Linked DNA regions of Homo sapiens. The protein of the gene in region 1 purifies or fractionates together with the protein of each later gene. This does not show direct contact. Each region holds a gene or a part of one and is shown in the gene's direction. Other genes may lie near its edges. The genes, in order: LRFN4, NCK1, USP30 and NCK2.

Region 1 (7,035 bases):
GGGTGCAGGACAAGAGGACGCAGGGCCAGAATGAGGGCAGGGGTGAGGGGCAGGGGGCACTAAGGAGTTCTTTGGTCATGGGGAGTGGCAAGGAGGTAGGAGCAAGAGATTGGAGAGCGGAGGGGAGGGGAGGGCAGGGCAGGGCAGTCTCGGGCCAGACCGAGGTAGTGCAACAGCTTTTGGGCCCGGTTCTGTGCAGGCCGCAGCTGGAACAGCTCTGGGTTCTCGTCGATGAACTGGGTGTCCACAGTGCCTGCCAGGAACTGCTGGTTGTTGAGCACATTCTGCAGGAAGGCGATGTTGGTCTGCAGGACAGAGGCGGGTGGGAGGGGGTCACCATGCAGCACAGACAGGGAAGGCAGAGGAGAAAAGGCTGAAAGAGAAAAGGCTGAAGATGCTGCCCTGGGCCAGCACAGCTTCTGGGCCTCCCTGCAGAGGGGCACTTCCCCGTCCCTCAGCCCTCTCCTCACTCCAGCAGAGCCCCCTAAGCTGTCACGGGCTGGGCCTGCTCCCTCCATACTTGTTTACACCAAAGCATGTGCTGAAGGCCACCCTTCCTGCCTCCCCGCAGCCTAGAACAGGGCTCAGCCTTTTTCTCCAGCAGCGTGGCCCACAGCAGTCACCCTTGCCCCTCGTCCACGCTTCTCGAAAGAGGGCCTTGACCGCAACAGACCACACTCTGGCACTCTAAGTCACTCCTCCCAGCTGAGTCCAGCGGGCATGCTCCCGCCTTGCTGCTCGTTCCCTGGGCTTCCAAGCCATCTTGCTCTCCTGTCCTCTTCCTCCCCAGCTCCTCACACACCACATGCTCCCCAGGAGGCCCCGTCCCGGGGCTGTGGCGCCAGTGACAGGCTCTGCCTCCAGGGCAAGACCCAGAGGTGCAACTGCCTCCCGGGCCTTTCCTTGTTCACCCCTCGCATAAGTTCAGCAAGTCCACGGCCAGCTTCCTGCCTATGCACCCAGTCCTCCTGTGCCCAGTGGGTGCCCCACTGTCCCCCCAGTTACCAAAACCTGCATCCCATCACCCTCATCACCCACTCCTCCCATGCCACTGGTCAAGCCAGAGGATTCGACCACGGCCATTTTGGGACCTTGTGACCTCTTCTCCATCTCCAGGCCACACCCTCCACCGCCTTCCTCATTGTGGCCACCTCCAGCCACATCAAACTTGCCTTGCGCTCCACACCTTTGCACCTGCCTGGGAAGCTCTCCCTGAACTTCTCAAGGGCCTTCGCCCTGTCCTCACACCCTCGGCAGAGCTGACACTCACCTTTCCAGCAGTCCCCTGAGGAACCCGCTGTGGGCAAGCACACCCATCGGCTTCATCCTCTGCTTGTCTGCCTGGGAACCCTTGGGGGCAGGGTGCTGCCTGAGGCATGTGTCAGTGCACTTTGTGCACAGGGGCCCTCGGTTCCACTCATTAAATGCCTGGGTGACAACATGAGGCTGGGCCAGGGTGAGTATGACTTAAACGGGGACATGCGAGCCAGCACTGTGACAGGTGCTCCAAGACCTGTGAAAGCATGGCCTGTGGCTGTGTAGCGACAGCCCTGGCTTCCACCGCGAAGAAAACACCTCCACGCGTCACTTATTCATGATCCCTGTCGGCACCTTCAACAGGGACTCAAGGCCACCCAGACTCCTCTGAGCTCTCCGTCTCTTAGGCTCCTATTACCTGGAGGCCTGGACAGGAAGGGTGCCTCCCCCACCAGCCTGTCAGGTGCTCACCACAGAGTGGGACCCCGCCAGCAGTGCTGTGCCTGTCTGCCCCTGAGCCTCGCCCCTGCCTCTCCTGAAGAGATGCTGACATTTCAGCTGGGCCAAGGCATGGCACTGGAGAAGGGAGGCAGCTAATGAAACCATCCAAAGAGCCCCGAGCGCGCAGAGTGAGAAGGACCCTTGGAGGCCTTCGCCCTGTCCTCACACCCTCGGCAGAGCTGATGCTCACCTTTCCAGCAGGCCGCTGAGGAACCTGCACGGGCAGGGCTGAGCGCAGACCCACACTGTTGCTGGGACCCTTGTGTTCACAGACACACGCTGAAGGTCATAACCGTTCTGCATCACCGAGTCATGTGGAGGGTCCCCACTGAGTCTCCCCTTTGTGACTGTCGGGTTGCCCATCCTCTCCTCCATACTGTAAGCTCTATGGGGGCAGGAACCAGGCCCATCTGGTTCCTGATGAACCCGGCTCCCAGCACTGGGTGGCCATGGTGGATGCTGGTAAACATCTATATTTAGAGTGAATGAAAACTTTTTTTTTGAGACAAAGTGTGTCGCCCAGGCTGGAATTCAGTGGCACAATCTCAGCTCACTGCAACCTGTGGCTCCCTGGTTAATGCGATTCTCGTGCCTCATCCCAACAGACATGCGGTACCACGCCCGGCTAATTTTTGTATTTTTAATAGAGATGGGGTTTCGCCATGTTTGCCAGGCTGGTCTGGAACTCCTGGCCTCAAGTGATCCACCCGCCTCGGCCTCCCAAACTGCTGGGATTACAGGCATGAACCACTGCACCCGGTGGAAAACATTTTTGATGGGGAGAAGAGGAACAAAGACATAGCTGGTGCCACTGCACATCAGAGTTGACCTGCACCAGGACTGAATCCCCCTCATTTTACAAACGCCACAGCTGAGGCCCAGTGAGTGGTGACAGAATGGCTTCTGGCTGCCTGTAAGCCCCTCACAAGCTGCAGCTGTCCTCCCCTCTCGCCCCTAGGAAATGCTTATGTATGTACCATCCAACTCTCCTGGCCTACAGGAGGAACTTGTTTTCAGTGGTCAGGTAACGTGCCCAGGACTACACTGCTGTGCTGACAGGATCAGAATTCCAATCTTGGGTTTCCCCGAGTTTCCTGCCACCTGGCCCATGGGGATCAGGGCTGGAGGGAGAACGAGGATGGCTGAGGTTTAGGTGGCTTAAGGACCAGGAGACACGGGGAGGTGGTGACTTCCTGTTTCCCAACTGGGCAGACCACTGGTGGTGGCGGGCACAGCTGGAAGGAAACCAGGCTCGCCGAGCCACCGAAGCCCCAGCTTTCTCAACCAGGAAGCAAAGAACCTCCCCCACCTCACGCCGGGAGCCCTTTCTCTGAGAGGAGCTGGTTCCGAGCCGCTCTTCCAGGGAAATGGCCCGGCGGCGACAGAGCGGGAGGGAGGGGCCGCAGGCGCTGCGAGGACGCACAGCTTCCCAATGCGTGCCCCCGGCGGTTGGGAAGCCGCGCCGCGCAGACCAATCCGGCCCGAGGCGGAGGCCGGTTGGCTCCGGAACGCCTGGCCCGCGGGGCGGGCGGGGCAGCTGGGGAGGGAGGGAGAGGCGAGAGGCAGCTGGGGACAGGGCGGGGCGGCGGGGGCGGGGCGCCTGCCCGGAGGCCAAGCCCTCTCGGCCCCACCCCGCAGCAGCCCTGCCAGGGGCGCCGCCCCAGCCCCCCCCACGGCCGAACCCCGTGCCGGTTGGGGACCCTCCACGTGACTCGGTGATGCAGAACGGTTATGACCTTCAGCGTGTGTCTGTGAACGCAAGGGTCCCAGCAACAGTGCGGGTTTGCGCTCGGCCCTGCCCGTGGGTGCAGGGACGTGTGGGTGTGTGGGCATGTGTGGGTGTGTTGGGGAGGGTGCCCAGCGACATGTGACAAAGACGCCCGTCTCCGGGAGATGGTGAAGGGGCCCGCGAGCAGGCGCTTTGTCTGGCTGTCTGCAGAGTGAGGTTCGCGCCGCGGCGGCGGGCGCCCGTGCGGTGCAGGATGCCGGGGCGCCAGGATGGCCGGGGGCGCGCGCGCCTGTGCCAGGGTGAGTGCGCTGCGGCAGCGCCGGGGGACAGCGCGGAGGGCCCGCGCCGGCCCGGGCCTCGGGCGTGACTGGGCGCCACCCGTGGGCGCTGCAGCGGCCGCGTGTCCCCGTGACCTCAGGAGCCGGCCCGGGCCCGGGTGGATCCCCGCGCGCCCCTCCCCGTCCGCCCTCCACGTGCGTGTCCGCGGCGCGCGCGCCCGCCGGCGCGCACCCGCTCGCCTGTCGCCGCCGCCACCGCTAACCGCGCCGGGAAAAGGTGCCGGGAACCGAGCGAGCCGGGGCCGCGGGCCCGAGCGCCATGGGCCCGAGGGTGGGCGGCGGGCGGCCGGTCATCCCCGGGCCTCGTCCCCGCGGGAGAGCGGCCAGGAGTCGGCGGGGGCCGGCCGGGCTCGCAGGGAGGCCGGCCCGCGCCCCCTGAGCGACGGACACCAGGTGAGGGGGCCGCCGGGCGCAGCGCGGGGGCCGGCCAGGGAGGGGCCACGGACTCCACGGGAGGTTCGGGGGGCGCCTTCTCTGGCGGGGGAGGGTATGGCGGGGAGTGGGGAGGCGGCTGGCGATTCCTGGGGACGCCTGGGAAAGGAAGTTCCGGGACCCTCCCTGCTCTCGGTCCTCCTCCGCTTCCTGCCTCATGCCTCACCTTGTCCCCAGCGCCTGGACTCCCCCTTAACTGCTTGGGAAATGTGACCTTTGCTCTGGGGGGCCTGGCCCTGCAGGCCCCAACCTTCCCTCATCTCTGGCGGCCCTCTTGGGCCTCTGACCCAGCCCCTCCCCGGGCCAGGCTCACAGAAGCTGGCTTCTGGGACTGTCCTGGGCCCAAGTGGGCACCTGCGCCAGCCCCACCTGTGCCTGGGCTGTGGCCCCTTCCTACAGGGCGCTCACCATGGCCCCGCCGCTCCTGCTGCTGCTGCTGGCCAGTGGAGCGGCCGCCTGCCCGCTGCCCTGCGTCTGCCAGAACCTGTCCGAGTCGCTCAGCACCCTCTGTGCCCACCGAGGCCTGCTGTTTGTGCCGCCCAACGTGGACCGGCGCACAGTGGAGCTGCGGCTGGCTGACAACTTCATCCAGGCCCTGGGGCCCCCTGACTTCCGCAACATGACGGGACTGGTGGACCTGACACTGTCTCGCAATGCCATCACCCGCATTGGGGCCCGCGCCTTTGGGGACCTCGAGAGCCTGCGTTCCCTCCACCTTGACGGCAACAGGCTGGTGGAGCTGGGCACCGGGAGCCTCCGGGGCCCCGTCAATCTGCAGCACCTCATCCTCAGCGGCAACCAGCTGGGCCGCATCGCGCCGGGAGCCTTCGACGACTTCCTAGAGAGCCTGGAGGACCTGGACCTGTCCTACAACAACCTCCGGCAGGTGCCCTGGGCCGGCATCGGCGCCATGCCTGCCCTGCACACCCTCAACCTGGACCATAACCTTATTGACGCACTGCCCCCAGGCGCCTTCGCCCAGCTCGGTCAGCTCTCCCGCCTGGACCTCACCTCCAACCGCCTGGCCACGCTGGCTCCGGACCCGCTTTTCTCTCGTGGGCGTGATGCAGAGGCCTCTCCCGCCCCCCTGGTGCTGAGCTTTAGCGGGAACCCCCTGCACTGCAACTGTGAGCTGCTGTGGCTGCGGCGGCTGGCGCGGCCGGACGACCTGGAAACGTGCGCCTCCCCGCCCGGCCTGGCCGGCCGCTACTTCTGGGCAGTGCCCGAGGGCGAGTTCTCCTGTGAGCCGCCCCTCATTGCCCGCCACACGCAGCGCCTCTGGGTGCTGGAAGGCCAGCGGGCCACGCTGCGGTGCCGGGCCCTGGGTGACCCCGCGCCTACCATGCACTGGGTCGGTCCTGACGACCGGTTGGTTGGCAACTCCTCCCGAGCCCGGGCTTTCCCCAACGGGACCTTAGAGATTGGGGTGACCGGCGCTGGGGACGCTGGGGGCTACACCTGCATCGCCACCAACCCTGCTGGTGAGGCCACAGCCCGAGTAGAACTGCGGGTGCTGGCCTTGCCCCATGGTGGGAACAGCAGTGCCGAGGGGGGCCGCCCCGGGCCCTCGGACATCGCCGCCTCCGCTCGCACTGCTGCCGAGGGTGAGGGGACGCTGGAGTCTGAGCCAGCCGTGCAGGTGACGGAGGTGACCGCCACCTCAGGGCTGGTGAGCTGGGGTCCCGGGCGGCCAGCCGACCCAGTGTGGATGTTCCAAATCCAGTACAACAGCAGCGAAGATGAGACCCTCATCTACCGGTGAGGATGCGTGCCCCACACCCGGCTGCACTCCCGGCGCCCTTCCTCCGCCCTCTGCTCCCCACAAGGCTTTGCTTCCACCCCTCCTCTCTCTGGGGCTGACACCCCCTCCCCGACCATGGCTGCTGGACTCTTGGAGGAGCAGTGGCCTGGCCTGGCCTGGCTGCCTGAGGGGGCTGGAGCTCAAGGGGCGGCAGAAGGACCCCACCCCGAGATGTCCCAGGTGTCACTGAGCTGTGCAGGCCTCCCCGGCAGCAGGTGGCGGTTGGGTCTGTCTGAAGCACATGGCCCGCGCCCGCGTGTTATTTCTGCCTCTGCTGGTGCCATCCCCCCACCCCATTCCCCTCGCTTGCCTGCGTCCTGTGCCAGTGCACACACCCATCTCCTGGCCACACTCTCCAGCCTGTTCACCTTCCTGAGTGAACCCAAGAGCCCGAGTGGCCCCAGGGGGAGGGGTGTTTGGAGCTGGGAGCACGGGAGTGGGGAGGTGAGGATGGGGCTAGACCCCAGCCCCGGGCTCTGACCACCTGCCCTTGCCTGCAGGATTGTCCCAGCCTCCAGCCACCACTTCCTGCTGAAGCACCTCGTCCCCGGCGCTGACTATGACCTCTGCCTGCTGGCCTTGTCACCGGCCGCTGGGCCCTCTGACCTCACGGCCACCAGGCTGCTGGGCTGTGCCCATTTCTCCACGCTGCCGGCCTCGCCCCTGTGCCACGCCCTGCAGGCCCACGTGCTGGGCGGGACCCTGACCGTGGCCGTGGGGGGTGTGCTGGTGGCTGCCTTACTGGTCTTCACTGTGGCCTTGCTGGTTCGGGGCCGGGGGGCCGGAAATGGCCGCCTCCCCCTCAAGCTCAGCCACGTCCAGTCCCAGACCAATGGAGGCCCCAGCCCCACACCCAAGGCCCACCCGCCGCGGAGCCCCCCGCCCCGGCCGCAGCGCAGCTGCTCTCTGGACCTGGGAGATGCCGGGTGCTACGGTTATGCCAGGCGCCTGGGAGGAGCTTGGGCCCGACGGAGCCA
Region 2 (2,899 bases), on another chromosome or scaffold:
TAGTGTTATTTATTTTTTTAATCCCACTTGTATTATTTTACCTCTAGAGCATCTTGTATTAGGACATGTTATATTTATGCCAGTGGGAAATAAGTTATGGCCAAGTTTTGCAAAAACAGGAAGCAGTGAGATACTTGTTTTTTTCTCCTCACTAAATATCAGTAATTGTCAGGAATGGTATTACCTATTTTCATTTCCTCTTTTCAGCTTTAAGTTTTGTTGATTGGGACACTAAAACTGATGTATACCTGAGGAAAAAATAGAATGTGCTCATGGTTAGGGAAAATTATATTATTTTTAATTTTTTAATTTGTTTTTTAACCAAGTAGGAATTTGGGTGTATGGATAAGAGGCCAATCTGCTTCTGTAGGCTATAGAAGAAAACCAGTTGTATTTTATGGTCATAATTTGTCCCCCTATTATTCTGGAGATTTAAATTTAAGTAAAGTAGCCATCAGTATTTTAATTGAAAAATACTAAAGCCACATAACTGAGTAGGATGTCGTATGATACTTTCAACAAATTCCCTAATGCTGCCTAAGCATATGGATGTTTTAATTCTTTGCTGTTATAAATAGATATCTAATACGCCAGAATTACTGATGGTAAAATTGAAGTTGTGTAACTTGTGAATTTTTTTTATCAATGTTTTAAATATTATTTAAATCTTAAAATCATTTAAAGACTTATGTTGCCACTGGGTGGCAGCCATGGCTTCTCCCACTAAGCAACAGAAGTGACCAAATATAATTAAGACAAATTTTCATCTCTATTACATCTGCTTTTAAAACATTTTAGTTCATATTCTATTATTTTTCTAACTCAGTACTCCTTTGTTGAGGGTAATTATTAGTAGTTAAGTTTTTAATGGAAATAAAAATCATGTATGCTTATCTTTGCTGTAAAATCAAATGAATATAAATTGAGGAAAACTTTAAATTGTTGTAGGATGACTAGTAGTAAACATCATCTTAATTTTTAACATATATTTGATGATGCTTTCCTTTTCTCTGTATGTTTCTGGGTTTTCCCCCAGTCTTCCTTATGAAAAAAATGTATGTTTGTAAAAAGAGAACAATTAATGCTTTGCATCACAGACATAAACTATTCATAGTAAACTGCACTGAGCTGATATTAATAGAGCAGACTTTTGAGAAAGTAGGAGTGTAGTAGCACTGGAAACAGAATGCAAATTTCTGTTCCATAATTAGGTTTATTGTAGCTATAGCGCTCCCAGATAACCCATGTGTGCTAGTAATATCTATTGTGTGCTCTTACTATGGTATAAAAACCTCGCTGGAAGCTACTTATTTTGTACTTAAATATTTTACCAATTTTTAAAAAGTCTTAATCCAATGCTTATACCAGTGACTGTTTTTATAATACTTGAAGTAACTTTAAGAACTGAAACAACCCTGGAAAACTCTACATAGCTAGATAGTAACAATACTTGTATAAGAAACCAAGTTTCCTTATTCCCAGCCTGGTGTCTGTATCGTGACACACTACTCTGTGTATGCTTGGTTTTAGACTAGGAGGAGAGTCCTGGGAAGGGCAATATTACAGAAGTTTTCTTCCACATGAGGAGAATGCTTAGTTTCAAATTTAAATACATGTGTCAGATGGAACCCTGCCTAACTCACTTCTACAAATAACTTCCCCAAAATCTTAGAAGGTTTTTTAGAACATGATATAAGCTTTGTGACAAAAACAAATGCCATTGTGTCCCTTATTTAGTCATAAAACCTTAGGATTCAGCTGAATATATATTCACACATGTATATTACACATATATCACTATACAGTTAACACATGCACCTTGCACTATTAGTGACAAATAATACTGCTAAACAAAATAGGCTTCATGCAATCTATTGCCATTGCTAGAAGAATAAATAGGCCTAGCAGATGGGCAACTTGGGTTGTTAGAATAAGGTCATTCTTGCAGAATATGGCACTTAAATTATCTCCAGCTGTAATGTCCTACCATATAATCCAGAGGTTGCATAGAAGCAGAGTTGTCACAGTCTCTGTAGCACGTTTGTGAGAATTCTCTAGGCAGGCCCAGCCCTTCTCTAGAAGTTTGAATTTCACTCCCACCTTGTTGCTGGGGTACCTTCTTCAGGGTACATCTAAACACAGTGGCCTTATACAGAAATGTTGTTCAACCCACACAGTGCTTTAAAAAATTAATTGCCAACATTTAAAAATCAGGGAGTTTCACATAAAATTCAGACTTCTTGTTTCCCTTTAAAAATGAGAAGCTAATAACATGAGTTGAATTCCCACAAGTCAACAATGAGCTGGAATCTAATATGGATGGTCCTCTTATCTTTACCAGTGCACATGGTGAAAAAATTCAAACAGTATAATAAAGTCTTCTTTCAAGTCAAAATATAGAGACGAATCTCTGAAACGTTTTATTTGGGAAGCAAGAATTGTAATTCAGGGCATATACACAGACAGTAGTTTTTGGTATGTCTAAAGAACAGAGAAGATGGGGAGTTTTATTATAAAGAGAAATGTTACGTATGTTTTGAAAGAAAACTCATTGGTTCTAGATAAGTTTTTGGGAGGTGGCAAGCTCTGATTGGTGTGTGACAGTGATAGGTAAAACCAGTCTTAGAGTCACAGCAGGTCATTTCAGCAGCTACTAGGTAAAACTGGTCTTAGGGTTTACAGTAGTCTGTTTAAGTAGCTGGGCTTGTGGAAAACTGAGTTCTTGGAGCAGCTGCTATGTCCTTCATGTACTTTTTCCCCTTAATGCATTGAATCTGATTTGGTTGGGTATGACAATAATTACCCAATTTGTATAATTAACTTTCACACTCCCAACCCTTATCCCCCTAGTTGAGATCTCCAGATGCAGTTTACTCTCCCTGTTTTTCCTATAACATGG
Region 3 (7,050 bases), on another chromosome or scaffold:
ATAGGCAACAAGTATTTATTGAATGCCTGCCTGGGGTGGGGACTGTCGAGGGCAATGGAGTCGTAGCAGCAGACATGACTTGCAGGAGTTTCCTGCTCTCTTAGAGCTGGTATTCCAGTGGGGGATGAGGATAGCAGGCAGGGGTCGGTGCAGACAGTAAGCAGGGGATTTCAGGATATGCTAACAAGAAACTAGCTGGTGTAACATGGCATGGATAGGGAGGGCAGAGGAGGAGGAGCCAAGCTACAGGGGGAGACTGCTCCAGGTAGGGAGGCTCCTCTCAGGAGGTGAGGTTTCAGCGGAGACCGGAAGTATAAAAGAGAGTGAAGTGTGTGGACACCTGGGTACAGAGCATTCCAGACAGATGAAGAAGCTAGGGTATAAGTCTGGAGATGGTTATAAAGCTGCCACCTGTGGAGAATGGCAGGGAGGCCAGGGCGGGGAGGGCGGTGGAGGAGAGGGGCTGGCGAAGTTGGCAGGGAGCAGATTGTGCAGGGACTAGGAGGCTGCGGGCGGCATCAGCTTCTATTGTGTTTGCAGCGGGGAGCCACTAGAGGACTTTGAACTGGGGACTGGTTTGATCTGACTTGTTAGAAAAGGAAGGCTGGAGGGGCAAGAATGCAAGCCGAGAGGAAAGGTGGGAGGCCGCTGCAGTTATCTGGCCGAGATGGTGTGGCTCAGACTGGGGTCGAAGCAGGGTAGCTGAGAGTCCTCAGGAATTTAGGGCGTATTTTGGAGGAGGGTCCTTTTTTCAGGACTGCTGCTGAATTGGCTGAGGGTGGGTTAGAGTTCAGAGGGGTGGAGGCAGCTTTGGATAATTGGTTGGGGAGTATGCCCTGTGGAGGAGCTCTTTTGGCAGAGACCTGAAGGATAGGAGGTAGCCGTGCGAAGGTCTGAGCACAGCCCGAAATGGGAATAAGCTGGATATGTTCAAGGAACAGCAAAGAGGCCAGGGGCCGGGACATTGTGAATGTTGGGGGCTTTGTAGGCCAGATAAGAATGGTAGGTTTTACTCTAGTAGTGGAAGCCATTGGAAAGCTAAAAGCAGAAGAGTAAAGCTATCTGCCTTTTAAAGTATTGCTCTGGTGGCAGTGTGAGGGGACACCAAAGGAGAAGCAGAGGGCCTGTGTTGTGACCCCGTTACTCCCGGAAGAGTGAGGGGTGGCTTGGGTTTTTGGGGAGAGAGCCATTTGAGTTGATCCTTCAAGAGTAGTCCCATGCCATTGGATCCAGCAACCCCGCTGCTGGGTACAAACCAAAAGAATTCAAAGCAGGGACTCAGTAGGGTATTTGTATACTCAGGTTAATAGCAGCATGTTCGCAATAGCCAAGGGGTAGAAGCAACCCAAGTGTTCATCGGCTGATAAATAGGTAAACAAAACTTTCATACAATGGAATATTATTCAGCCTTAAAAAGGAAGGAAATTCTGCAGTATGCTACAACATAGGTGAAGCTTGAAGACGTTATGCCGAGGAAAATAAGCCAGTCACAAAGACCAACACTGTATGATTCCACTTGTGTGAGGTTCCCAGAGTAATCAGATTCCTAGAGAGATAAAGAATGGTGGGTGCCAGGGGTTGGGGAAGGGGAAATGGGAAATCAGTGTTTAACAGATATGGAGTTTCAGCTGGGGAAGATGAGAAAGTTCTGAAGATGGATGGCAGTGATGATTGTACAACAACATGAATGTACTTAATGCCACAGAATCATTCATGTTAAGATGATAAATGTTATGATATGTGTATTTTACCACAATTAACAAAAAACATAATCTTTTGAAATCGGAGTGGAGGTCAAGGCTGTCTCAGTGAAACAGAATGGTCTCATAGACTGCTGGCGTGAAGGCAGCCACCTGGCTTTCTCTCCTGCTCTCTGCTCCTGGACCTCTTGCTTGAGGGTCTTCACTCGTGACAGTGTCCAGGACATAACTGTTTTCTTTAATGAGCTGGGCCTTGAGAAGGTAGAAAGCAAATTCTACCCACATTCACTGTAGGGTGTCTGCCCGAGGTGGGTAGTTCTGATCTTGCTCTTGCCTCTTCCAACCTCTCTAAAGAATGCTTTGCCCTATGACAGGATGCTCACGAATTATTCCATGTCATTACCTCGTCATTGGAAGATGAGCGAGACCGCCAGCCTCGGGTCACACATTTGTTTGATGTGCATTCCCTGGAGGTAAACCATTAATATTTCCAACACGTTCTGTGCAGCTTGTGCATATTTAATAAGTATAGGGGAGGCAAGTGTAATCTTTGTACAACTTTAAAAGTAAGATTCAGTAAAAATCAGTGGTGGGAATGAGGCCAGGGGAGGGTCTTAAAACTACATGCTTTGCAGTTGGTGATCTGATTAGGGATGTCAAGGCTCTTTCAAATGATTCATTGCTGCAATTTGTGTTGGCTTTGAGAATAAAGAATGTGTTATTTTTTCCTGTTTAATACAGGGGAACAGGGGCCATAGGAATGCTAAGTGAGCCCTCATTTCCCTGTAACAGTATAAATATCGGAGGAGTTGACAAAAGTTAACCAGTAAGGATGAAAATATTCTGGAGAGAAGAAATATGTTTCTATTGCATTTGATGAAAGAATATTCATAGTATCCAGCCAGATAGGCTAATTGAGGCTACCTTTAGAAACCTGAGCTTTGTTAAAAGTTGATTTTTAGTGGTGTAATCAACGTAGAAACTTGTAAGGTTTAGGGGTGGGGTGAGGGTGGTGAAAGGGATTATAGTAAGGTTTTCAGTCTGTTTTTTTTTTTTCTCCCCTACAGCAGCAGTCAGAAATAACTCCCAAACAAATTACCTGCCGCACAAGAGGTAGCTGTTTTCCATTGAAATATAACACATAAGATGTGGACTTTTAAGATATGATAATAATTTGCTTGTTTTAAAAAGATTTTTTTCTGGTGACATACAGGCCAGCTTGAAGTGTGATGTGCTTGCAAAGGAACTTGTATTTTGGAAATAGCTTTAAATAGATTCTCTTGGTGTTCCCTTGCACCCCAGCCCAGCTGACTTTTCTTGAAACTGGCTTATTTGTACTTCAAACAAGGGCTTTCTTTTTACCTTTTTGAATTGATCCTGGGAAGAACATAATGAGCTGAATCTGTCGTGTCCTCAGCATTTCCAGTGCTGCCAAATTCTATTGCATATTACCACAGTCATCCTTAGGAGGAAATTGTTGTTTTCTTAAGACTTAAAAAATAAGATTAGCATATTAATTCCTCTGTGTAGTAATAGGAACAAATATTTTTTGAGCCCATGCTGTTTGCCAGGCATTGCATTATCTCATTTAAGCCTCATAACAACTCTACAAAGTTGATGATACTGGAGTTAATGGGATAATAACTATCCCAATTTTCCGCACACTGAGGCTTGTAGAGATTAAAGGCATTCCCAGGTCAGGTAGTGAATAAGAAGCACAGCCAGAGCTGATCCCTGGGCTGCACAACTCCAGAGCCCAGGTTTCTCACTTATGTTCTTTCCATTAAACCCCATTCTAGCCAAAGAAAGGCCTAGTTATTCAGAACTTGCTTATTCTGTTTATTTCAGAAGATTTTATCTCGCTTTATGGAATGTTCACTTGTGGTATCCTTCTTTTGACATCTCAAACATTTTAAGCATATGTTTGTAAAAAGACATTATTCAACACAAATTCCTTTTTAAAATGTGGCTCTACCCATTATACAGAAACCGTATATAAAGATAGATCTGTGTAAATTCTCCTATGAAGGAATGGGATGTCTTTTGGATGGAAGTCAATGAGGAAAGCTATTTCAATGTACTTTTCAAGAATATTTTTTCTTAAGAGGTAGTTTCTACCACATGCTAGAAAGGAAGATGAATGTTGAGCTTGGTGCCAAAGGGCTAAAAGTGACATATCAAAAAACTTTTTGCATTCCAGGGTCACCTCACCCTACATCCAATCACTGGAAGTCTCAACATCCTTTTCATGGAAGACTCACTAGTAATATGGTCTGCAAACACTGTGAACACCAGGTAAATACAATACCAACACTTGATATTTCCGGGAGAGGTTTTCCAAAAGTTAGGATTCTTGAAAGGACCTAGAGAGTGGGCTGACATCGGTCACTGGTGTTAGAGACTACCTGGCCTCTGCACACTAGTGGACTGACTACCCCACTTTGGTCAGTGTCAGCATGTCATTTGAGGTCAGATGGCATCTTCTGCACCAAGGACAACAGACCCACTGTGGATTGGCAGGCTCTTGAGTCCAGTGGTTGAGTCTATGCTCATGGTGGACACAGTAGATTCTAGGGCTGGTTTTTTCCCCTTTACTTTTGAGGTTTTAAAATAATATTTTATTATGGAAAATTTCCAACATCATACAAAAAGAGAGAATTGTACAACTGTCACCCCAATCCATTTTATTTTATTTTATTTTTTCACAGCCATTACTGACTCCGGGATCAGTCAACTTTATAACATTTTCATTGCCCCCTAAAGAAACTCCATACTCATTAGCAACCTCTCCCCATCCTTTCCATCACCCTACCCTTGTCAACCATGAATCTACCTCTGTCTCTATGGATTTGCATATTCTGGATGCTTCATATAAATGGAATCATGTAATGTGTGGCTTTTTGTGTCTGGCTTCTTTCATTTAGCATAATATTTCCACGTTTCTTCCATATTTTGGCATGAATCAGTACTTTGTTCCTTTTATTACCAAATAATATTGCATTACATGGATCTACAACATTTTTATCCATTCATCAGTTGATGGGCATTTGGATTGTTAACACTTTTTGGCCATTATGAATAATGTTGCTGTGAACATTTACATACAAGTTTTTGTGTGGACATATATTTTCACTTCAGTTGGGTATATACCTCAGAGTAGAATTGCTAGCTTATATGGTAACTCTTTTGTTTAACCTTTTAAGGAACTGCCAGACTGTTTTCCAAAGTGGCTATGCCATTTTTCATTCCCACCGGCAGTGTATGAGGGGTTCCAATTTCTTCACAGCCTCACCCACATTTTGATGTCAGCCCACTCTCTAGGTCCTGTCTAACATTGAGGTTCTAGCCATCCTACTGAGTGCAAAGTAGTATCTCACTGTGGCTTTTTCCCCCAGTTTTATTGAGATCTAATCGACAATAAAAATTGTATATATTTAGGGTGTACAAAGTGAAGATTTGATGTATGACTGTGTGTGTGTGTGTGCACGTGCACCTGTGCTCATATGTGGTGAGAACACTCTCTTAGTATATTTCAAGAATACAATACAGTATTATTAACTGTAGTCACCATGCTGTACGTTAACTCTCCAGAACTTATTCGTCTTATAACTGAAGGTTTGCATCTTTGAGCAACATCTCCCCACCTCCCCAGCCCCTGGCAGCCAGCATGTACTCTGCTTCTGTGAGTTTGACTTTTCTAGATTCCATATAGGTATGAGATCAGGTGGTGTTTATCTTTCTATATCTGGCTTATTTCACATAGCAGATGTCCTCCAGGTTCATCCATGTTGTCACAGATGGTAGGACTTCCTTTTTGATGGCTGAATAATATTCCATTATATGTGTATACCACATTTTCTCATTCATCTGTCTGTGGACATTCCATATCTTGGCTATTGTGAATAATGCTACAATGAAGATTGTTTTGCAGATGTATCTTTGAGATACTGATTTCATTTCCTCTGGATATATACCTAGGAGTGGCATTGCTAGTTCATATAATAGTTCTATTCTTAACTTTTTGAGGAACCTTCATACTGTTTTCCATTTACATTCCCACCAACAGTATGCAAGAGTTGCCTTCTCTCCACACCCTCGGCAACACTTGTTACGTGCTGTCTTTTTTTTTCAGACAGAGTCTCGCTCTGCTGCACCCAAACTAGAGTGCAGTGGTGCCATCTTGGCTCACTGCAACCTCCGTCTCTTGGGTTCAAGCAATTCTCCCACCACAGTCTCCCAAGTAGCTGGGATTACAGGCACCCGCCAACACACCCAGCTAATCTTTTGTATTTTTAGTAGAGATCGGGTTTCACCATATTGGCCAGGCTGGTCTTGAACTCCCAACCTCAAGTGATCCGCCTGTCTCGGCCTCCCAAAGTGCTGGGATTAAGGCATGAGCCACTGTGCCTGACCACATGCTGTCATTTTGGTAATAGCCATCCTAACAGGTGTGCGGTGATAGCTCTTTATGGTTTTATTTGCATTTCCCTGATGATTAGTGATATTGAGTGCCTTTTCATATACCCACTGGCCATTTGTATGTCTTTTTTTTGCAAAGTGTCTGTTCAGCTCCTTTGCCCATTTTTTAATCATGTTACTTTTTCTTTTTTTTTTTTTTTTTGCTGTTGGTCCATATGAGTTCCTTATAAACACTCTTTTAGTGTATTTCAAGTATTCAATTTTGGATATTAACCTCTTATCAGATATATGGTTTGCTAATATTTTCTTTCATTCCATATGTTGCCTTTTCATTTTGTTGATTGTTTCATTTGCTGTGTCATTGCGGTTCTGAGTGACATTACCTTGAAGACTAATATGTTGAATGGTCTTTTTAAAAATAAGGTTCATATATTAAAAGATATGTAAGATATGTTAAGGAACTGTAATCTATAAGTTGACTATTCATCTCTTTTTTCCGTGCATTATTTTGATACTATTGTAAGTGGAATTTAAAAAAATTTATTTTCAAATTGTTTGCCACTAGTATATAGACATACAGCTGTTTATATATTGACCTTATATCTTGAGATTTTTGTAAACATTCATTTATTACTTCTAGAAGCTGTAGAAGTTTTGTTATGTATTCCTTAGCATTCTCTGTGTATGCAAACAGTCATGTTGCTTATGAATAGAAATAGTTTTAGTTCTTCCTTTCCAACCCAATCTTTATTCCTTTTTTTTTTTTTTCTTTGCCTTATTATCCTGGCTAAGACTTATGGTACAAAGTTAAATAAGAGTGATGATGGCAGACATCTTTGCTTTGTTTCAAATCTTCTGAAGCAAGTATTTGGTGTTTTATAATTAAGTATGATATTAGCTTTAGGTTTTAGTATACCTCTTTATCATACTG
Region 4 (7,050 bases), on another chromosome or scaffold:
CCATCCTCCCACCTCAGCCTCTCCAGTAGCTGGGGCCACAGATGTGCACCACAGGTGGCTAATTTTTTTTTTTTTTTTTTTTTTTTTTTTTTTTGCAGACACGGTCTCGCTATGTTGCTTAGGCTGGTCTCAGACTCCTGGCCTCAAGCAATCTTCCCGCCTGGGCCTCTCAAAGGCTGGGATTCCAGGCGTGAGCCACTGTGCTGGCCCTGTGACATGTTTTTATGGATAAAATAGATCAATTTAATTCTCAACTTTAAGTAACTTCGCAACTACAGGAGGCAGCTGCCAGCAACCGTATTTTTCTCATGGTAATTACAGTTTGTAAGCACTGTCCATGTGTCGTCCCCTTGTATTTAACCGCCAGAGAAACTGCGTGGAAATCCCGGTAGGCTAGGGAGTGTGGTGGTGCCCAAGTGCCCTGCGCCACTGAGCCTTGCTGTGTCTCCACAGGCCTCGGCAAGACGCGCAGGAAGACCAGCGCGCGGGATGCGTCCCCCACGCCCAGCACGGACGCCGAGTACCCCGCCAATGGCAGCGGCGCCGACCGCATCTACGACCTCAACATCCCGGCCTTCGTCAAGTTCGCCTATGTGGCCGAGCGGGAGGATGAGTTGTCCCTGGTGAAGGGGTCGCGCGTCACCGTCATGGAGAAGTGCAGCGACGGTTGGTGGCGGGGCAGCTACAACGGGCAGATCGGCTGGTTCCCCTCCAACTACGTCTTGGAGGAGGTGGACGAGGCGGCTGCGGAGTCCCCAAGCTTCCTGAGCCTGCGCAAGGGCGCCTCGCTGAGCAATGGCCAGGGCTCCCGCGTGCTGCATGTGGTCCAGACGCTGTACCCCTTCAGCTCAGTCACCGAGGAGGAGCTCAACTTCGAGAAGGGGGAGACCATGGAGGTGATTGAGAAGCCGGAGAACGACCCCGAGTGGTGGAAATGCAAAAATGCCCGGGGCCAGGTGGGCCTCGTCCCCAAAAACTACGTGGTGGTCCTCAGTGACGGGCCTGCCCTGCACCCTGCGCACGCCCCACAGATAAGCTACACCGGGCCCTCGTCCAGCGGGCGCTTCGCGGGCAGAGAGTGGTACTACGGGAACGTGACGCGGCACCAGGCCGAGTGCGCCCTCAACGAGCGGGGCGTGGAGGGCGACTTCCTCATTAGGGACAGCGAGTCCTCGGTAAGTGCGCTGCGCCCACAGCTCCGGCTGCAGGCAGTAAATGCGCCTTGCGCGGTGGGTCTGTGTGCCGCGCCCTTTTCACATTGTGTGAGTACACTAGAAAGAGCGGGAGACGCAGATGAATGCAATTTAGTATAATGTTTGCTACTCCGTGATTTACTTGCATCTGTTTTGGGGATAGTGGGTGTCCATTTCTGGAGGTGGGAGATTAACTAAAAAGATGTTTTTAGCTCACAGAGGTGGTTCTGCTTCTCTCCCAAGATTCCCCCTCTTGTATTTCACAGGCTCAAACATCATTTTCTCTCCTGGTTGCCCATTCTGTGTACGTAGAAGGCCCGAGTGATTTACTTTGTTTCTATTCGGTCTGTGTCCCAGAGAAAGCATTCTTTGCAAGACTGGTGGCTGGTTTCTGACACCTCCTTTTGTTGTTTGCTTGCTTTCTCTTTGTAAACCATATAATCCCAAGGTCATTGCCACGGCAGGCAGCGCCACTGAGTTCATCTCTCAAAAGCTTTTAAAGCACTTACGAGATAAATTGAAAAGAAAACAGGGGTTCTTGGGAGAGATGAGTTTTGTTTGTGTGCAGTGAGTCGGAGATATGAGGCCACTCGACTGGGGCAGCAGACCCAGTTCAGCGGTGGGCAGGCTGGGGGCGGTGAGTTTCAGGCATGGGGTCAAGCCTGCATCCCAGAAGGCAGGCTTTTCGTGTGTGAAGGAAATACTCGACCAGTTTTGCAAACGTCTTTCCGAATACACCTTCTACAATCGAGAGACTTCCAAAACAAGCATTTAGGAGATAGAGTTTAATGTATTTGAATTGTATTGGTTCTAGGAGGCTTCAATTTCATTTTTAAATGCACGCTATAAGACTAGTAAGTATGTACTACCTGCTGCCACTGCTGTCCTCTGAAAAGATTACTGGCACAATGAATAAGTGCTCATTCAAGGGTCCTGTTGACTGATCAGAGAGGCATTCAAAGCCCTCCAGAGAGAGGCGACTGGGATGTGCTCTCTTTGAGGACGGAGCATCGTGGTGGTGGAAACTGGACTCCTTTATGGTGTCATCAATTTTGCGGAGCCTTACATGTGCTTGGACGGGAATGCCAGGCTGAAAGCTAACTTCATCTGAAATCTGAACTCTGAGATTTATCAAGTCACCAGAGTTTATCATTCCTGGCAAGACATCACATTGAATTGTTCTCACATGACGAGAGCTCTGTGCACCACTTCTTTTAGATCGTGTTTGAAGCCTTAAGCAAATTAAGGACAGCAGCGCTTTTAACTCAATCGAGCAGAAACTTAGAGAAAGCGCTGGAAAACCAATTACAATATTAAGTGCTTGGTCCAGAGTCCTTAAGGGCTAAGTATAATGCACAAAATATGATCTTGGCTTAAAATTTTTTGAGTTTGAGGAGACTTCTCAGAAGGAAGTCCTGCAGTGTGGAGACATTGGTCCCAGTCATTATTCTTTCTGCCTAAGATTTGGGGAAAAGAGGAAAGACTTTAGAGGGTAGATGAAAAAGGTGTTCTCCGGGGTTGCTGGCCTTAGGGAGGACCTATGGCTTTTCTGTGGAACATGCACAGGTGGTCATTGCTGTCTGAATTCAGGGACCAAGTCCCTTTGGATAAGGAGGGATGCATGCATTGTCTGGGTTTCATCTCAGAACTCTGCACCCCACTGTCTCAGTTGTCTTATATTGTTAGAGAATGAGCTAACTTTTTCTAAAGAACTAAAGCACGAATTGTTTGTATTTCCTTTTAACAGTTTTTTAATGGGGGCCTTTCAGGGTTTTTTGCATTCTCTCCTAACTTAGAAAGTCAAGGAACAACATATATGATTCTAGGAATATAGGGCGGAAAGAGCTTTACTGGGACTTGCATCGGCTCTGCACACATAGCAGCACCGTCTTTGTCTGAGGTTCCACGTGGCCTGATGCTGTGCAGGGCAGCTTGTCCTGATGGATCTTGCCGTGACACGGGCCATTTTCAGCTGTTAGTGTGCATGCCTTGTTCCATGGGGATTCTGCAAGAGCCCTGAGGTGTGTGTGTGGCTTCTTTTCTCCTGACAGCAGAACCATGCCAGGTTTGCTGTATTTCCTGTTCATAACCAAGGCGTTCTCAGCTGTCATCTGTGACTACCAGGGACCTGTCCTGGTGGACAAGTGGACAAGTCCTTTGCTTGTTTTTTTCCCACCATCCACTGCCTCCCCCCGTCCCCATGTGTTTTCCTGCTCATTTTGGCATTTCTCAGGTTAGAGCTGGCTTTCGCAGCCACCACTAGGCCACCAAGAGCCCTTAGGTTCATGATCTGACATAATTCCTTCGCAGCATGCCAGGATGGAAAGGTTTCTGAGGGGTTCAGCCTCCCTGCAGGACTCAGTCAGGCATCTTTATTTAATTTCCTTTTTTTCTTGCAGTCTTTGGGCCTGGGCCTTTAATTGAGGTTATCACATGAGGCCTGGCTTCTGGATAAGCACAGCTGTTTTTTTTGGAATGGATCTTCAATAAAATATCCTGAGTGATTGCAGTGTAAATGAGCTAGACCCTTGCTTGACGATATTGAGGGGTGCGTATTTCAGGGAAGACAAACATTGCCACATGCTACACTATCCACTATCAGTAAGTGCTGGGTATTTCAGAAGTATCTGTTGGATATGTTAGATGAATCAGTGAACCAACAAACGAACGAACCTCTTGGACCCTCTTTCCTGTCCTGAACTTCAGTACCTACTGCTTGTCCTTCCATTTCTTCCTCCTCCCTCGCTCTCCTCTCTCATCTACAATTGTCATTTATCCTTAGCAGCTAAAGGTGATGCATTGTTGTTGCTTATTCTCCATATTTCGTTATCATACCTTCACCTGTGAGCCATACCTGCTTAAATCCAGAAAACTCAGAAATCCTACTCACCCTGTGTGTGTCCATTATAAATCCTTTTATATTACATTTTGTCCACATTGATTCTATGGATGTGGCTAGAAAGCTGTACTTAAAATGAACAGTAACCCTTTACTGGGTTTCTGGTAAACTGTACAAGTTGTCAATATTTTATTTTCTTAATTGCTGCATCTCCCATCCTTGTAAAGCTTGTTCAGAAAATGACAGATCACAACTAGGATATGGTTGGAAAAGGTGCAGAGCTGGCCTGCAAGTGCGGGAGGCCATTTTCCTCTGTAAGATTTTAGTTCCCGAAGATATCATGTATTTATTATGTCCTGCAATAGTATTAGATACTAATATTTTTTGTCATACAGTACTTTTTTTTCCAGTAGAGAAAAACTGTCTCGCTAAGGATAATTTAATGCACATATTTGTTTCATTTCTCTTTTTTAAAATATATGAAAAGTATTTGGCTGGGAAATAAAATAGAATAGCTCCTTTCTGTATTTTTAAAGTTATAATATTTCTTAAAGAAATTATAACTTTTACCCAAAACTCTATTTTCAGGCAATTTCATCATTCCATTTCTCTAAATAATGATTCTCTAACTGTATGTAGTGTGTATCAGAATTGCCTTGAAGCTTGTTAAAACAAATTGCTGGGTCCTACCTGAAATGGTACTGATTCAGGAGGTCTGGGGCCCAAGAATTTGCATTTCTATTAATAGCACGTTTCTTGGTGGTGATGCTGCTGCTTTTGGGACCACACTTTGAAAACCCTTGATCCCTATGATGCATTCTTAGTGGTTTTATATATTCTTGCAGCTGTTATTAAAACCATTTCTGCATAATACTACATTTCCATGAATTATAAAAATATTGTCATAAAGCTGAACTTCATTTAGAACTGAAGCTTTTGTTGAGTGGGATTTATCTCTTGAAGTATATTTCTGTTGAGTTTTTTGGGGGGCTTTTTTGTGTTTTTGTTTGTTTGTTTTTTACTGTTTAGAGTTTGAAAATAAACGTGCTGTATTTGCTGTGTTTCTGCTGATGAATTAGGAGGAGGTAGATTGTCAGAGCAATGTGAAAGCTGCTTCCAGGGTTTCATGGTTAGGCTCCGTGATCCATGGTGTTTCTTCATAAATGAGTTAATGTTAAGATGACTTAACCTTAGGTTGCTGTGAGCAGTGCCTGTAGGCATCTTTCCAGTTTCAAAGATAACAAGTTATTTTTAATTGCCAGGCTTTTTGCCCAGTACCAAATGGAAGTTTTAAGCCTGGATTTTTGTAATAGTTCTAATTTTAAGCATATTTAACTCTTGAAGATGGAAAGGCCTGCAAGATCATGCAGTACAGGCTGTTATCTGGAAGTTTAGTGCTCATCACCTGATTCTGATTCTCAAATGGGCCAGAGCCCTTGAAGACTCTGCCTTCTCACTCTGGCTGGCTCTTCAATGCTGACCTTTAAAACAGACAACATCCAGCATCACCAGCAAACTTGCTAGAATGCAGATTGCCCCAGCTTGCTGACTTCGAATCTCTGGGGTAGGGCTCTGCAACCTTGGTTTGAAGAAGCCCTCTGAGTCCTTTTTTTGTTCCAAATCCTGAGAACCTATGAACTCCTGAATAATTCTGATGCGCCAATTTGAGAACCACTACGTTGTGGAGTATGCACTTGATTCAAGCCCTTTTGCATACTGTTGTGTAATATGGTAAAATTCTGACTTAAATGTATCACTCAGTCACATCAGGTATGACACTATGGAAAGACAAAGAATAACAAGGACAATATTCTACAGGTCTATATGGTGAGGTATTACATGTGACTTTAGGAAATACATTTGGGGATAGGGAGGGCTAACCACACACATGCATACTAACTGGAAAGTGGACAGGGAACGCTCCGTTTGCCTAGATTAGGTAGATGGGACTTGGACAGCTGCTCTGTAGTTGATGATTGACTTTTCATTTATGTAAATAAGATTACTTCCAAAGTTAATGAGATGAATATTTGAACATGTCAGTGTGGATTGGCTTCAGGCCTGTGGAGTAAATATTTTATAGAGTGAACATTGATAGGAGAATAGGAAAAGCTGGTGAGACTCTTCACACTTGGGGCAAGGAAGAGATAATCTGATGTAAAAACAAAGAACATAGGGTCAACTGACAGCTAGCAGCATAAGTATAGGCAGGAGTAATTTTTATTAAAAGAAGGCTACCTTAGACAACTAGGGCAGGTGACCAAATAGAATGGTAAAACTGAAAGGCAGTTTTTCTGAGATAAAAACAGAGAAACTATTAATCAGTGGATCACGATTTGCCTCTAACCCATTTGTTCTCACTTTTGGGAGGTAAATGAACCACTTCTGTGGACAGAAGAGTGCCTTCTGTAAAGAAGTAAAAGGGGAAAAACATGTCTTTACCAAAAGAAAAGAATGATACAACTTGTGATAAGAAACCAACAGGGTGACCTCTCTCTGGGGGTAGAAGGAGATGTGTAGATTATTGATGCTTGGAGACTTCAGCGTGGCTGGAGATCAGTCCAGGGTCTGTGTGGAAGGCCTGGTGAATCACACAAAGGGCATTTCTACCCTCATCATTTCATAAAGTCCAAAGTGAAAGATAAGGAGAAGTTTTAAGGTTTAAAGAACCAAAAGTACCTGGAGCAAGGCCCCTCCCTCCCGTTTCCTCATGACTATTGTGCTTAGAAGAAAATCGCATTAATACATAAGCTTTCAGGAATGGAGGAGGAAATAAAGGATATTAAAGTCTGTCCTCGGCATTCATTTTTTTCCTTCTATGAGAAAACAATGATTAAATCTTGAGAGAGGGAGAGGCGTATCTGATCAGGACATCTGTTTTATAAAACTGCAAAGGTGCTTTTCAGCAAGTATTTGAGGCAATGGATCAAGCTGGCAAAGCCATAGAGATGGGATCAAAGAGTGTGCTCTCTACTGTTCTTTTCTAAAAGTACCCACTTATCGCGAGCACAAATTGCA

What was found.
Region 2: the proteins of LRFN4 (region 1) and NCK1 purify together in Homo sapiens (co-immunoprecipitation; 3 studies listed by BioGRID and IntAct, with this or other methods). This does not show direct contact.
Region 3: the proteins of LRFN4 (region 1) and USP30 purify together in Homo sapiens (affinity purification with mass spectrometry; 2 studies listed by BioGRID and IntAct, with this or other methods). This does not show direct contact.
Region 4: the proteins of LRFN4 (region 1) and NCK2 purify together in Homo sapiens (co-immunoprecipitation; 4 studies listed by BioGRID and IntAct, with this or other methods). This does not show direct contact.

The regions. Positions count from the first base shown.
Region 1 is NC_000011.10:66,853,079-66,860,113, forward strand, and holds the start of LRFN4 (leucine-rich repeat and fibronectin type-III domain-containing protein 4 precursor), read left to right. Parts: upstream 1-3,985; 5' UTR 3,986-4,666; coding exon 4,667-6,015; intron 6,016-6,558; coding exon 6,559-7,035. Other genes in the region: PC (pyruvate carboxylase, mitochondrial precursor), read right to left, coding at 161-305. UniProt on the Homo sapiens protein: Promotes neurite outgrowth in hippocampal neurons. May play a role in redistributing DLG4 to the cell periphery.
Region 2 is NC_000003.12:136,949,208-136,952,106, forward strand, and holds the end of NCK1 (SH2/SH3 adapter protein NCK1), read left to right. Parts: 3' UTR 1-2,399; downstream 2,400-2,899. UniProt on the Homo sapiens protein: Adapter protein which associates with tyrosine-phosphorylated growth factor receptors, such as KDR and PDGFRB, or their cellular substrates. Maintains low levels of EIF2S1 phosphorylation by promoting its dephosphorylation by PP1.
Region 3 is NC_000012.12:109,069,538-109,076,587, forward strand, and holds part of USP30 (ubiquitin carboxyl-terminal hydrolase 30), read left to right. Parts: intron 1-2,074; coding exon 2,075-2,173; intron 2,174-2,767; coding exon 2,768-2,813; intron 2,814-3,900; coding exon 3,901-3,995; intron 3,996-7,050. UniProt on the Homo sapiens protein: Deubiquitinating enzyme tethered to the mitochondrial outer membrane that acts as a key inhibitor of mitophagy by counteracting the action of parkin (PRKN): hydrolyzes ubiquitin attached by parkin on target proteins, such as RHOT1/MIRO1 and TOMM20, thereby blocking parkin's ability to drive mitophagy.
Region 4 is NC_000002.12:105,880,875-105,887,924, forward strand, and holds part of NCK2 (cytoplasmic protein NCK2), read left to right. Parts: intron 1-453; coding exon 454-1,175; intron 1,176-7,050. UniProt on the Homo sapiens protein: Adapter protein which associates with tyrosine-phosphorylated growth factor receptors or their cellular substrates. Maintains low levels of EIF2S1 phosphorylation by promoting its dephosphorylation by PP1.